3 linked regions of the Homo sapiens genome follow. The protein of the gene in region 3 purifies or fractionates together with the protein of the main gene of each other region. This does not show direct contact. Each region holds a gene or a part of one and is shown on either strand. Other genes may lie near its edges.

Region 1 (3,651 bases), on a different chromosome or scaffold from region 3:
CACAAAAATCCACTCACTGAGAGTCGTACTTTTTGGTTGTCCTGAGGAAAGTTCTACAGAAACAGAAGCAAGATGAGAAGGGGGAGATGTTTCAGATAAAATGGAAAAGTTCTCTCTCTAACATATTTCAAAAGAATGTCTTAGGCGCTTTCATCCGTAAAACCAACGAGATGATTGAATAATTTTTCAACTACATAAAGGATGAATGCTTGATAAAAATAACGGAAAACTAACCTCAATTTTCGAACTATTATCTCTTTTCACAGGAAGAAGTGTGTTATATACGACTGACTTCAGTTTTGTCCGTTTCAGGGATCTAAATTCCAACCCTCAGAGACTCCATTTTTGCATTTCATATTAAGAAACTGTCAGTGAGGTGAGAGTGTGTTCAGAAATCCCAAAGATGAATATAAATAATACCAGTTGCAGGAGCTTAATTTAGAGTAGGCAATATATTTATTAGATTATTTGTTTCCCCAGCTGGTATGTAGAAAGACATGATTGGTGTCAATTTGTCTTTACTCTTAATTTCTTAGTGTGTTAAAAGACCAAGTATATATATTCATAAATACTAAAAACACACATTCATAAATACATAAAATACTTTAACCTAGGAAGAATTCTAGTAACAGCGGTAATACAGAAGAGTTGTCAAGGGTAATAGCAGCAGTCTTTGGTAACAGCAGCAGTCTTTGGTGGAAACCTATACTATAGTGACACAGCTAGAACACTCCATATAGGCAGCCTTACGTATTTCCCTTCTTCAAAAATACCACCATCAGTATTATCCCTTTATTCTGGTAGAAAACTCTTAAGTTTCTGGGTTGGAAAACTTGGCATTTTTTGTTGTTGTTGTTCAGTTTTCGTTATGTTTTAGTATCTCTCTTGGTCACATAACCTAACAATTGATCATAATAATTGAGAAAAATGTCATCTTTGGAGGATAGAATCAAAAGTTTCTTAGAGTAGTTAATATTACCTTTATGTTGGAACCATGTACTTCTGCTAGAAGGATTTGTTCTGAATTAAGTCCACAGAGATCACTCAGCTGTTTTTTTAAACCTGTGTACTTTTCATCCATATTCAGTCTTAGTCCATACCGTACAGGGGTAGTACCATCTAACTTAATCACTAGTAAAGAGAAAAGATCTTTTATTGGTAAAATGCAGGTTTCATTGAAAGTCTTAAATGCTGTGTACAGATATATCTGACCTGTAAATATAATAGCAAATATTTCAGCCTAGAATTTTTATTTTATGTGTAAACACTAAAACAGATGGTACTTAGGGATAATATTAAGTGAAATCAGTATTTTTTTGGTGTTCATCTGACATAAAAGTATCAGTGGCTTTGCAGGGTTTTAAAGAGAGTTGCTGGCATATTTGAAACCAAAAAAACATGCCCCAGTCTACATCTTTCAAACCTCAAGTCATGCCTAAAATTAGGTTGCTCAATTATAATATGCTGACTACCGGTCTTTATTTGTAAACAAATAACTATGCTTACAAATTCAGGCTATTTAAATAAAGTAAATTTAATGGAGTCAAGTAATTTTTCAGAACTTTCTGACCTACCTGTTATTTCTAAGTGCATATAACTGTCCATTGGTAGTGGCAAAGACAAAAAATTGAAAGGGTCAAATCGGACACTTATATGCCCACATGTCTTGCATTTTACTTGAGATCTTAGCTGCCCATGGAACAAATCCACAACAATTGATCTATTTCTTCTTAGATGGTTGTCCCAGGCCTAGCAATAAAAAAGATGAGAATTTTCTCTCAAAATCCAAAAGAGAAGCATTTCTATATAAATTCAAAGAAGCTAGTTAAATATATTGGATTTAAATGTAAAGAATATAATCCTTACTCTTCATTTAACATAAAATATTAAATTGAGATGGAAAATCCTATTTTTCATTTGTTCTTATCAAGGTAACAATGGTAAATATTAAAGTTATTTGTCCATTAACAAGTATAAAGCATGCCTATAGGTCACTGTATCCATTACTTTAGCAATTACGGGGACTCTTTAAATTCCACTGGATAATTATTCCTACATCCAGTCCCATAAAGTTTACAATATGAAATGGCAACAGTTTTCTATTTTCATTAAACGTATTTTTGTTTTGGCATTATTGCATAAGAATTAAGCACAGAAATAGAAATTCATTCATTTTTGCAGTAAAGTTCTGATCTCAGAATAGTTGAGTTTGCATTTAAGTTGTGCTACATGTATTTGTGGCCAGAACATTTTGTCTATTGCTTACATTAGAAACTCAAAACTGACAAACCTCTGCAGCTACTTCCCAGTCTGGTCGCCCATCACTGTCCTTCAGTTCCACATATGGCTTTTCATGGACTCGATTAAGATCTTCATGAAGACCATCCAAGAGAAAAGCCAGAAGTTCTTGGGAGTCCTGTTGCTGAAACCCATTAAACCTGGGAGCATATTTTGCTATGGTCCACTATAAATATAAGAGAAGTCACAGTCATTATTTCCTACCCATAAAATTTGGAATGAACATGTCCTATAATCCAATCAGAGCCATTGTAAGAAAATAAATAGTATAGTACTTAGTCTGCCTCTATTTCAACAAATATATTTTGGATAATCATGAAATCTTTTGAATCTTAATGTCAAATGACCCCCCCCAAAAAAAGAGAAGTATTTTGGCCAATACTGTGCAATACTGTGTCCTCAGTTCAGTATTATGTAAGCAAACTGTTCTTCAGGCACACAGATGTTATTTAAGACAGAAACATTAAAACAGCGTTTGCTCACATTGAAAGACATCCTGTTCTATAACGTTTTACATTTTTATATGCATATAAAATATGTATATTTTATAGGTACATAGTATATACATAACATATGCATAAAATAATGTGTATATAATAATACATAACATGTATAAAATAATATGTGTATACATTATTTTATATAATATAATGTTGTCTTCAACAATTACATTTTCTGGTCTTGTTGCATCCTAAATTTTATTAACTGCATTATATTATAGAATTATTTTGAGGATATAAATTAATTAGAATAGTGCCTGGCAAGAGGTAAGTAGTCAAATGTGTAGCTGTTATAGTTAATAATTTGTAATATAAAAAGCTTTTGCTTTGTATTTAAATAAAAATAATGAATAATCCTAACTTCACTAAAATCTACTACATCTGATATTAATATAAAACTTATATTCATTAGTTTCATTCATTCATCCTTCTACTTTTTTTTTTTCTTTTTGGAGACAGAGTCTTACTCTGTTGCCCAGGCTGGAGTACAGTGGTGCGATCTTGGCTCATTGCAAACACCACCTCCCAGGTTCAAGCGTTTCTCGTGCCTCAGCCTCCCAAGTAGCTGGGATTACAAGCATGCACCACTATGCCCGGCTAATTTTTTTTAGTAGAGACAGGGTTTCGCCATCTTGTCCAGGCTGGTCTTGAACTCCTGGCCTCAAGTGATCCACCCACCTCGGCCTCCCAAAGTGCTGAGATTACAGGCGTGAGCCCCTGCGCCCAGCCTACTTCTTTGTATTCTACAGATAGAACTATCTTAGTTACGTTGAAAATGGATTGGATTGGATGTAATTAATAAGACTCTGAGGTCCACCTTGCAGTTAGAATACTGCTAATAGTGAAGTATTAC
Region 2 (3,751 bases), on a different chromosome or scaffold from region 3:
TCAGCATGCTCAGGTGGGAAGGGTCCAGCCCAGCTCCTCCAGCCCCCCAGTGCATGCCCAGCCCCAATAAGTTACCCAGTTACTCAGCTGCCCTCCCTCCTGGGTCCATCTGTCCTTCTGTTCCACCCTAGACAGGGCCAACCTGACTCAACACAAGGGCTGCTTGTCCCCAGCCTGTGGGCAGTGCCACACGGCAGGCTAGGGGAGGGGTGAAGCAGCAGGACCATGCCCTGGGCCTGGAGGGGCAGAGGGGCCACTTCTGGCTCCAAGGGTCAGGACTTGGAAAACCACATCCTGGGCAGGCCTGGGGCCCAGTCCCACAAGGTCTGTGCCTGAAAAGAGGTGGTAGTTGGGGTGGGGCCGCCATCACACCTCAATTGCTGGGTCTGAGCCCCGGCCCTGCCGCTGCAGCTGCTCCTCCTGCTTCATCTTGGGCTTCTCTGTCCGAGTATGCCACACCAGTACCTGTGCCAGGAGGGATGCAGTGAGAGCCAGGCCCAGCTGCAGCCAGGCCTCTGGGTCCCCGAGCCTGGAATGGATTCTCTAACCCTATCGACATATACAGTATAGGCTTCAAAGTGTAAAGGGCAGGGTGGAGGAAGACTTAGTGCCTCTAAAACCGGGCCTTGGCCGGGCGCGTGGCTCACGCCTGTAACCCCAGCACTTTGGGAGGCCGAGGAAGGCGGATCACGAGGTCAGGAGATTGAGACCATCCTGGCTAACACCGTGAAACCCCGTCACTACTAAAAACACAAAAAAATTAGCCGGGCGTGGTAGCGGGTGCCTGTAGTCCCAGCTACTTGGGAGGCTGAGGCAGGAGAATGGTGTGAACCCGGGAGGCGGAGCTTGCGCTAAGCCAAGATTGCGCTACTGCACTCCAGCCTGGGTGACACAGCGAGACTCTGTCTGAAAAAAAAAAAAAAACAACAAACAGGGCCTTATTCCTTCATCCTCTCTGTGCCACATGGGTTCCCAGAACTCGGGGCAGAGTGGCAGGAGACCACTTTCCCCCGCTAGTTCCCAGCTTCCCCTTCAGTAGAGTCAGCAAGGCTGATCAGAGATCTGGAGAGTCCCTCCTGGTTAAACCACCCATTCCCAGGGTCTCACTGTACCTCCCCCATCACCTGTCCATCCAAGAGCCAGGTTTCTATGCCCATCTCCATTCCCTTACCCGAGTGCAGTTGGCAGCCCGTGGCTCCAGGTCCTTGGGATCCACAAGGTGGCTCAGAAGACTGCTCTCCAGGTGGCCCCGGGGAGCGGTGGAATCAAATTGGGCATTGGGCTTATCTAACAGCAAGGGCAGGGCCACGGCAAATCCAGCCATATCCACAGGGAAGGGCCTGCTGGGCTCCCATGCTGTGTGGAAGCCCACTACCCGGCCGTCCTGTACCTGAGGGCCCTCGAATCGCAGGCCGCCCACCAGCCCCACAGGCCACACTGAGACACCACGGGTCCAGCGCATCTAACGGAGGTCGGGAGAGAAGAAACAGAGGGGTGGTCCGGGGAAGGGAGCAGCAGAAAGAGCCACCTGGCTCACTCTGCCCCACTGCTTCCAGCCCCTCACCCAGCAGCCAACGGCAACACTGCTAACCAAGGTAACGAATGAAGCTGGCCGCACCTGGTCTCTTGCCCATCCCCATCCTGGTGCTCACCTCCTCAAACAGCTCCCGGCTGTAGGTGTTGTCATCGTCAGCAAAGTAGACGACTCCTTGGGTCCCTGGTGGTGGTGGGTCCTTCTCCCCACCCACAGCACCCCCTCTGCCCCGGAGCCAGTCCAGGGCCTTGTTCCGCTGCTCGACACCACGGGGATGAACCCAGCCAGGCTCGCCCTCCCGAAGCCGCTGGGCTTTGGGCGTGAGGACCACCAGGTGTGTGAAGAGGAGGCCAGAGGCAGCCAGCAGCCCTGAGACCAGCGGGGTGGGACCCTCAGCATCCTCCACCAGCAGCCAATGCAGCCGGGGCACCAGGCTCAGTGTCTGGGACAGTCGTACCAGCTCTGCCTTCTGTACCAGCCTGCAGGGGAGAGATGCAGCACAAGGAAAAGGGGCAGGCACCATTTGCCTGCTCCAGCCAGGGCAGACAGCTTCTCCTGGGCCACTGCCTGCGTCTCCTGTGGCCCTTCCCAACCAATGCCTAAACTCCCTCTTTCTTGCCTGTCAACTTCATGCTAACACTCACCTGCCCTGTTCTTCTGGTCCATGTCCATCACCCACCTCAACTCCAGAGCTCAGGCTGTGGGAGACTATAAATTAAGGGCACAGGGCCGGGCATGGTGGCTCACACCTATAATAACACTTTGGGAGGCTGAGGCAGGTGAATTACCTGAGGTCTGGAGTTCCAGACCAGCCTGGCCAATATGGTGAAACCCCATCTCTACTAAAAAAATACAAAAATTTGCTGGGTGTAGTGGCACATGCCTGTAATCTCAGCTACTTGGGAGGCTGAGGCAGGAGAATCGCTTGAACCTGGAAGGAGGAGGTTGGAGTGAGCTGAGATCGCACCATTTCACTCCAGCCTCAGTGATAACAGCAAAACTCCATCTCAAAAAAAAAAAAAAAAGGCCGGGCATGTTGGCTCACGCCTATAATCCCAGCACTTTAGGAGGCCGAGGTGGGCGGATCACCTGAGGTTAGGAGTTCGAGACCAGCCTGCCCAACATGGCGAAGCCCCGTCTCTATTAAAAATACAAAAAATTACCCAGGCATGGTGGCAGTCACCTGTAATCCTAGCTACTCGGGAGGCTGAGGCAGAAGAATCGCTTGAACCCGGGAGGCGAAGGTTGCAGTGAGCCGAGATTGTGCCACTGCACTCCAGCCTGAGCGACAAGAGCGAAACTCTGTCTCAAAAAAAAAAAAAAAAAAAAAAAAAAACAAATTAAGGGCACAGGCTTTGGGATCAGGTAGATCTGGGTTTGAAATCCAGTTTTGTAACTTATTATGTGAGACAATTTGGGAAAATGGCTCAATCTCCCTAAGCCTCAGTTTCCTCAACTGTAAAATGGGAATAACAGTACTTTATAACAATGTTGTTTTAAAGATTAAATAAGAGCTGGGGATGGTGGCTCACACCTGTAATCCCAGCACTTTGGGAAGCTGAGGCAGGTGGATCATGAGGTCAGGAGATCGAGACCATCCTGGCTAACACGGTGAAACCCCATCTCTACTAAAAATATAAAAAATTAGCTGGGTGTGGTGGCGGGCACCTGTAGTCCCAGCTACTTGGGAGGCTGAGGCAGGAGAATGGCGTGAACCCGGGAGGCAGAGCTTGCAGTGAGCCAAGATCACGCCATTGCACCCAGCCTAGATGACAGAGCGAGACTCCATCTCAAAAAAAAAAAAAATACAAAAGTAAAATACAAAAAATTACTGGCCAGGCATGGTGGCTCACACCTGTAATCCCAGCACTTTGAGAGGCCGAAGCAGGTGGAACACGAAGTCAGGAGTTCCAGACCAGCCTGGCCAACATGGTGAAACCCCATCTCTACTAAAGATACAAAAAATTAGCCGGGTGTGGTGGCGCATGCTTGTAACCCCAGCTACTCGGGGGGCTGAGGCAGGAGAATTGCTTCAATCCGGGAGGTGGAGGTTGCAGTGAGCCGAGATCGTGCCATTGCACTCCAGCCTGGGCGACAGAGTGAGACTCCATCTCGGGAAAAAAAAAAAAAAAATTAGCCTGGTGTGGTGGTGCACGCCTGTAATCCCAGCTACTCGGGAGGCTGAGGCAGGAGAATCGCTTGAACCCGGGAGGTGGA
Region 3 (3,751 bases):
CTGCTTCCTGGCCAATCTTCTGGGGGTTGACAATATATTTTATGAGTATTCTAAAAGTTGTATACTTAAGCAAAACAAATAAACAAAAATGCTTACTTTAAACTTGAGATCAAGGTTGTGCCTTACTTACCTTTGTATCCCCAGCAGTTACTCAGTAGAAGTCCAGGTCTAATCCACTCATTTTACAGTGCTTAGGGAGCCTGGCCCAAACTCAGAGTGAGTTATAAGGGCTGGGACAGGAATTCAGATTTCCTGATTCCTAGTCCAGTATTACCAATCTGAAGATACACGAATTTAGGAAGACAGTGGCTTTCTTTTTTTTTTTTTTTAGGTGCACCCAGTCCTGCAGTTCAAAGCCTGGCAAGACTCACCATCATCTTCCTCCTCCTCATACTGCTAATGAGAATCAGCAGCTGTGTTTCTACAGTGATAATCTGCGTATGCATGTTCGTGATGTTCCAATCACCAAAAAGGCTATTGATTTTAGGATTCCTGAGTACCTACAAAAGCTACTTAAACATCCAGGATAAAATCAGCTCCACCCAAGAATACAAGATAAGAGTTCAAATATTCCCTTGGCCATTTTTTTTTTTTAAAGAAAAGGCTGGAAGGACATGTCATAAACACCTAGAAAGATTCTGCAGTGAGACTGCTTTGCAAGTGACTTTAAGTATTCATTCCATGTTAAAAATACCATAGATAATGTAAGCCAGGGGCTAGCAAGCTCTTTCTGTTAAACATTTAGATGTTTCAGTGCTGCAATCACAGTGACCGGTGTTGGGGAGAGGGATTAGAAAGTGCCATGGTACTTAATCCAGTTACTCCCCCAACACCTCCAAGAGGTAGCCAAGTTCACACACTAAACAGAGCTACTGCAACAGTTCTAGTGCTAGTCCTTAGATTCTAGTTCCAGTTCCGGTTCTAGTGCTTAGATTCCAGTTGCATCATTCCAACTGTGAGCCTTCGCTGCTTTAACATCTTTGCCAGGAGGTGCAAAGTTCTCTGGGAGGGAGCTACCAATCATTTCATTTCAATTTCATACTGACAGATTGAAACATTCACGTAAGGGACACCTGTAGTACCAACCTGACTGTGAGGGGAAGCCCAAGAACTCCAGTGAGTCTGTGGACGCTACGCTGGGACACTATCTCCTTAGCCACACCTTGTCTAAGCCAGGACTACCCCAGGATTGTTTCGAGAATGATACCAGGTTAACCAAAGAAATACTTATGTAAGATACAGATAGGGTGGAAACTGGAGGCAGAGGAGTCCGCCACAATTGATGTTGATTTAGGGCTGTCGCAGGAAGACCCAGGGAAACCCACGCCAAAGTTGGGGTGGGGATGTGTCTGCCTCCAAAGTATCCTCCTTTCCATCACCCACCGCCAGAATATCTTAGCTCTTCTGCACCTCATCCGCGTAGAATACAGGTGGACTCTAGAAAGGGGACTTTCCTCGAGGTGTATGCTACAGTCTTTCAATAGTCACTCTGTAAGGGCACACAGTGCTTAAGGGCTGATAAGGTTCTTGTTCACCCACTAGCTCACTATGTCCTGAATCAAAGGACGAGGAATCCAGTCTCAGTCTGCCCTTTACTCTTTGTGACCTCGGACTAGTCACCCGGGTGCTTAGTTCCTTCGTCTCCCTATCTGTAAATTCTGAGATTACGAGGAGGCCGGGATTGAAATCCATGGCCTCTGAGCTCTAAAATCTTCTGGACCAGCAGGCACATGGAAGAACTGGACAAATGGCCGGTTGCATACACGGGGAAACTGAGGCACCGAGCACCCCGGCCCAAGGTCACTCTGGCTATGCCACTGCAGGGGCCGGGCCGAAGCCCCAGTCTTTAACCCTCCAGTCCCGAGCTCTTTCTCCTTCCGCGGAGCTGAGGAAAGCGGCGAGGAAGGTCCTTGTCCCGCTGGGAAAAGGACGGTACCCATGCACAGGGGTGCGAAAGAGGGGCCGAGAGAAGCCTTACCTTTCCAGGTCAAGTCCAGCCACTAGCACCTCTCTCTCCGAATCTTAACCCGTCACCCCCTCACGACTCTTCGAACGGCCCCTCCACTTCTACCCGGCTCGACGTGTCCACCACCGCCACCGAGGCCGAGGATTTCCCGCCCCCTCCCGCCCCCTAGCATTACCGACCAATCCCTGCAAGGGGCTGTGAAGCTCCGCCCCGCTGCGGGCTGGAGAGGCCTGACGTCACTCGGCGCTCGTGCCCGCGCGAGCCTCTCATTTGCCTTTGCCCCACCTTCTCCAGAGCCCAGTCTACTTTCGGTCCAGAGACCGTGCTGGAGTTCGCCCTGCCGGAAAGCAGCACGCCGCCGCGGCATTTTACGACGTCGGCGGTGACAGGCCCTGGGACTCTGGGAATACCCAGCTTCCTCCCCGCAACCCGGTGAAAGCCAACGCAATGTTCGGTGCGGGGGACGAGGACGACACCGATTTCCTCTCGCCGAGCGGCGGGTGAGTGACTGAGAAGTATGCGCTGGAGGGCGTGGCTGAGAGATACCGGCGGATTGTTGGAGGGGGGTCGATCTCTTCTCAGGCCTTTTCCCAACTTCCGGGGGGAGACCCTTGCCACATTCCGGTGCTCTACACCTCTCAGAATCTGGGCAGAACTTGCAACTGTGCTGACCCTGCCGATCTGAGGTTCGGGACCCGGCATCTCTCTTGGCGGGAAGATAGCCCTGGGTTTGCCTTTTGCATTCTGGGTCACAATTTCTCCGGTGAAATGGGAATGATTGCTGATGAGACTTCCTGCCTCAGAATTTTTATAGGAGTCAGCTGGGGCTGATGTGAGACTTCTTTTCTCCATGGAGAAGGCGAAGACACTTTAGAACCAGGCCTTGGTGGGTCAGCTCTAGCATTCTTCAAGGCCCAGCTCGGATGTCACGTTTTGGATGCTTTTCCTTCTGCAACCTCAGGCAGAATGAATTGCTTTCTCTTCCTTATTCCTGCAGCTAGGTGTGTTTGCCTCTATTCTTATACCCCGCACCTATTAGATTATGAGTCCTCACCGGACAGGGACTGCTTATGGTGTTCATTTCTGTCTAGCATGCAGCATGGTACCTAGCACATAGTGAGTGCTCAGGAAGTGGCTGTTGAATGAATAATAGCTGCGAAATTGCACTTTGTAAAGCTTAAAGCTTAAAACCAACGTAACAGACTTCTGTCATTCTCCAGTTTCCCCAAGCATTATATTAATATATACCAGCCTGGAATAGAAATCTTTAAAGAGAGGAAGGGTTTTGTCTCTTTTAGTAGTCAGTTTAGCCTTTTCCATTGTGTTGTGCCAGTGGACAGCTTGACTTCCTCCAAACTTGTGAGCTACCAAGCTCTGATCATTGCAGAGCTTTTCTTTGAACATATGCTTAACAAATTTTGTGCGTGCTGAAGAATGTACTGGAAAAATGACAAATGCACCACATATGCCCCTTATTCTGCTAAATGCTAAGAGGTTACAAAAATGATTAAACTGCTGTGCCTGCCCTTAAGTTGCTTCCAGATCTGTTGGGCCATGTGGTTTCTATTGCAACCACAAATACTCAGTTCTGCCTTGTAGGGTGAGAGTAGTCATAGACAATACATAAACAAATGAGTTAATAGATGAATGACCATAAAATGACACTGGCCTTCTTTTGTCCTTAAGTAGGAATTTTTGATTTACACTGACTAGCTCTATATTACCTACCTTTTAGTCTTTTTCACTCTCACCACTCTGTTCCCTTCCTACCCCGTCTTTAGATGG

Evidence for each region.
Region 1: the proteins of SLC31A1 (region 3) and USP32 purify together in Homo sapiens (co-immunoprecipitation; 3 studies listed by BioGRID and IntAct, with this or other methods). This does not show direct contact.
Region 2: the proteins of SLC31A1 (region 3) and B3GAT3 purify together in Homo sapiens (co-immunoprecipitation; 3 studies listed by BioGRID and IntAct, with this or other methods). This does not show direct contact.

What each region holds. Positions count from the first base shown.
Region 1 is NC_000017.11:60,207,080-60,210,730, forward strand, and holds part of USP32 (ubiquitin carboxyl-terminal hydrolase 32), read right to left. Parts: intron 2,465-3,651; coding exon 2,291-2,464; intron 1,750-2,290; coding exon 1,575-1,749; intron 1,132-1,574; coding exon 980-1,131; intron 54-979; coding exon 1-53. UniProt on the Homo sapiens protein: Deubiquitinase that can remove conjugated ubiquitin from target proteins, such as RAB7A and LAMTOR1.
Region 2 is NC_000011.10:62,615,335-62,619,085, forward strand, and holds part of B3GAT3 (galactosylgalactosylxylosylprotein 3-beta-glucuronosyltransferase 3), read right to left. Parts: intron 2,014-3,751; coding exon 1,653-2,013; intron 1,463-1,652; coding exon 1,172-1,462; intron 907-1,171; coding exon of another isoform or gene 852-906; exon of another isoform or gene 466-851; coding exon 367-465; 3' UTR 1-366. UniProt on the Homo sapiens protein: Glycosaminoglycans biosynthesis. Involved in forming the linkage tetrasaccharide present in heparan sulfate and chondroitin sulfate.
Region 3 is NC_000009.12:113,219,906-113,223,656, reverse strand, and holds the start of SLC31A1 (high affinity copper uptake protein 1), read right to left. Parts: upstream 2,114-3,751; 5' UTR 1,979-2,113; intron 1-1,978. Other genes in the region: FKBP15 (FK506-binding protein 15), read left to right, coding at 2,414-2,466.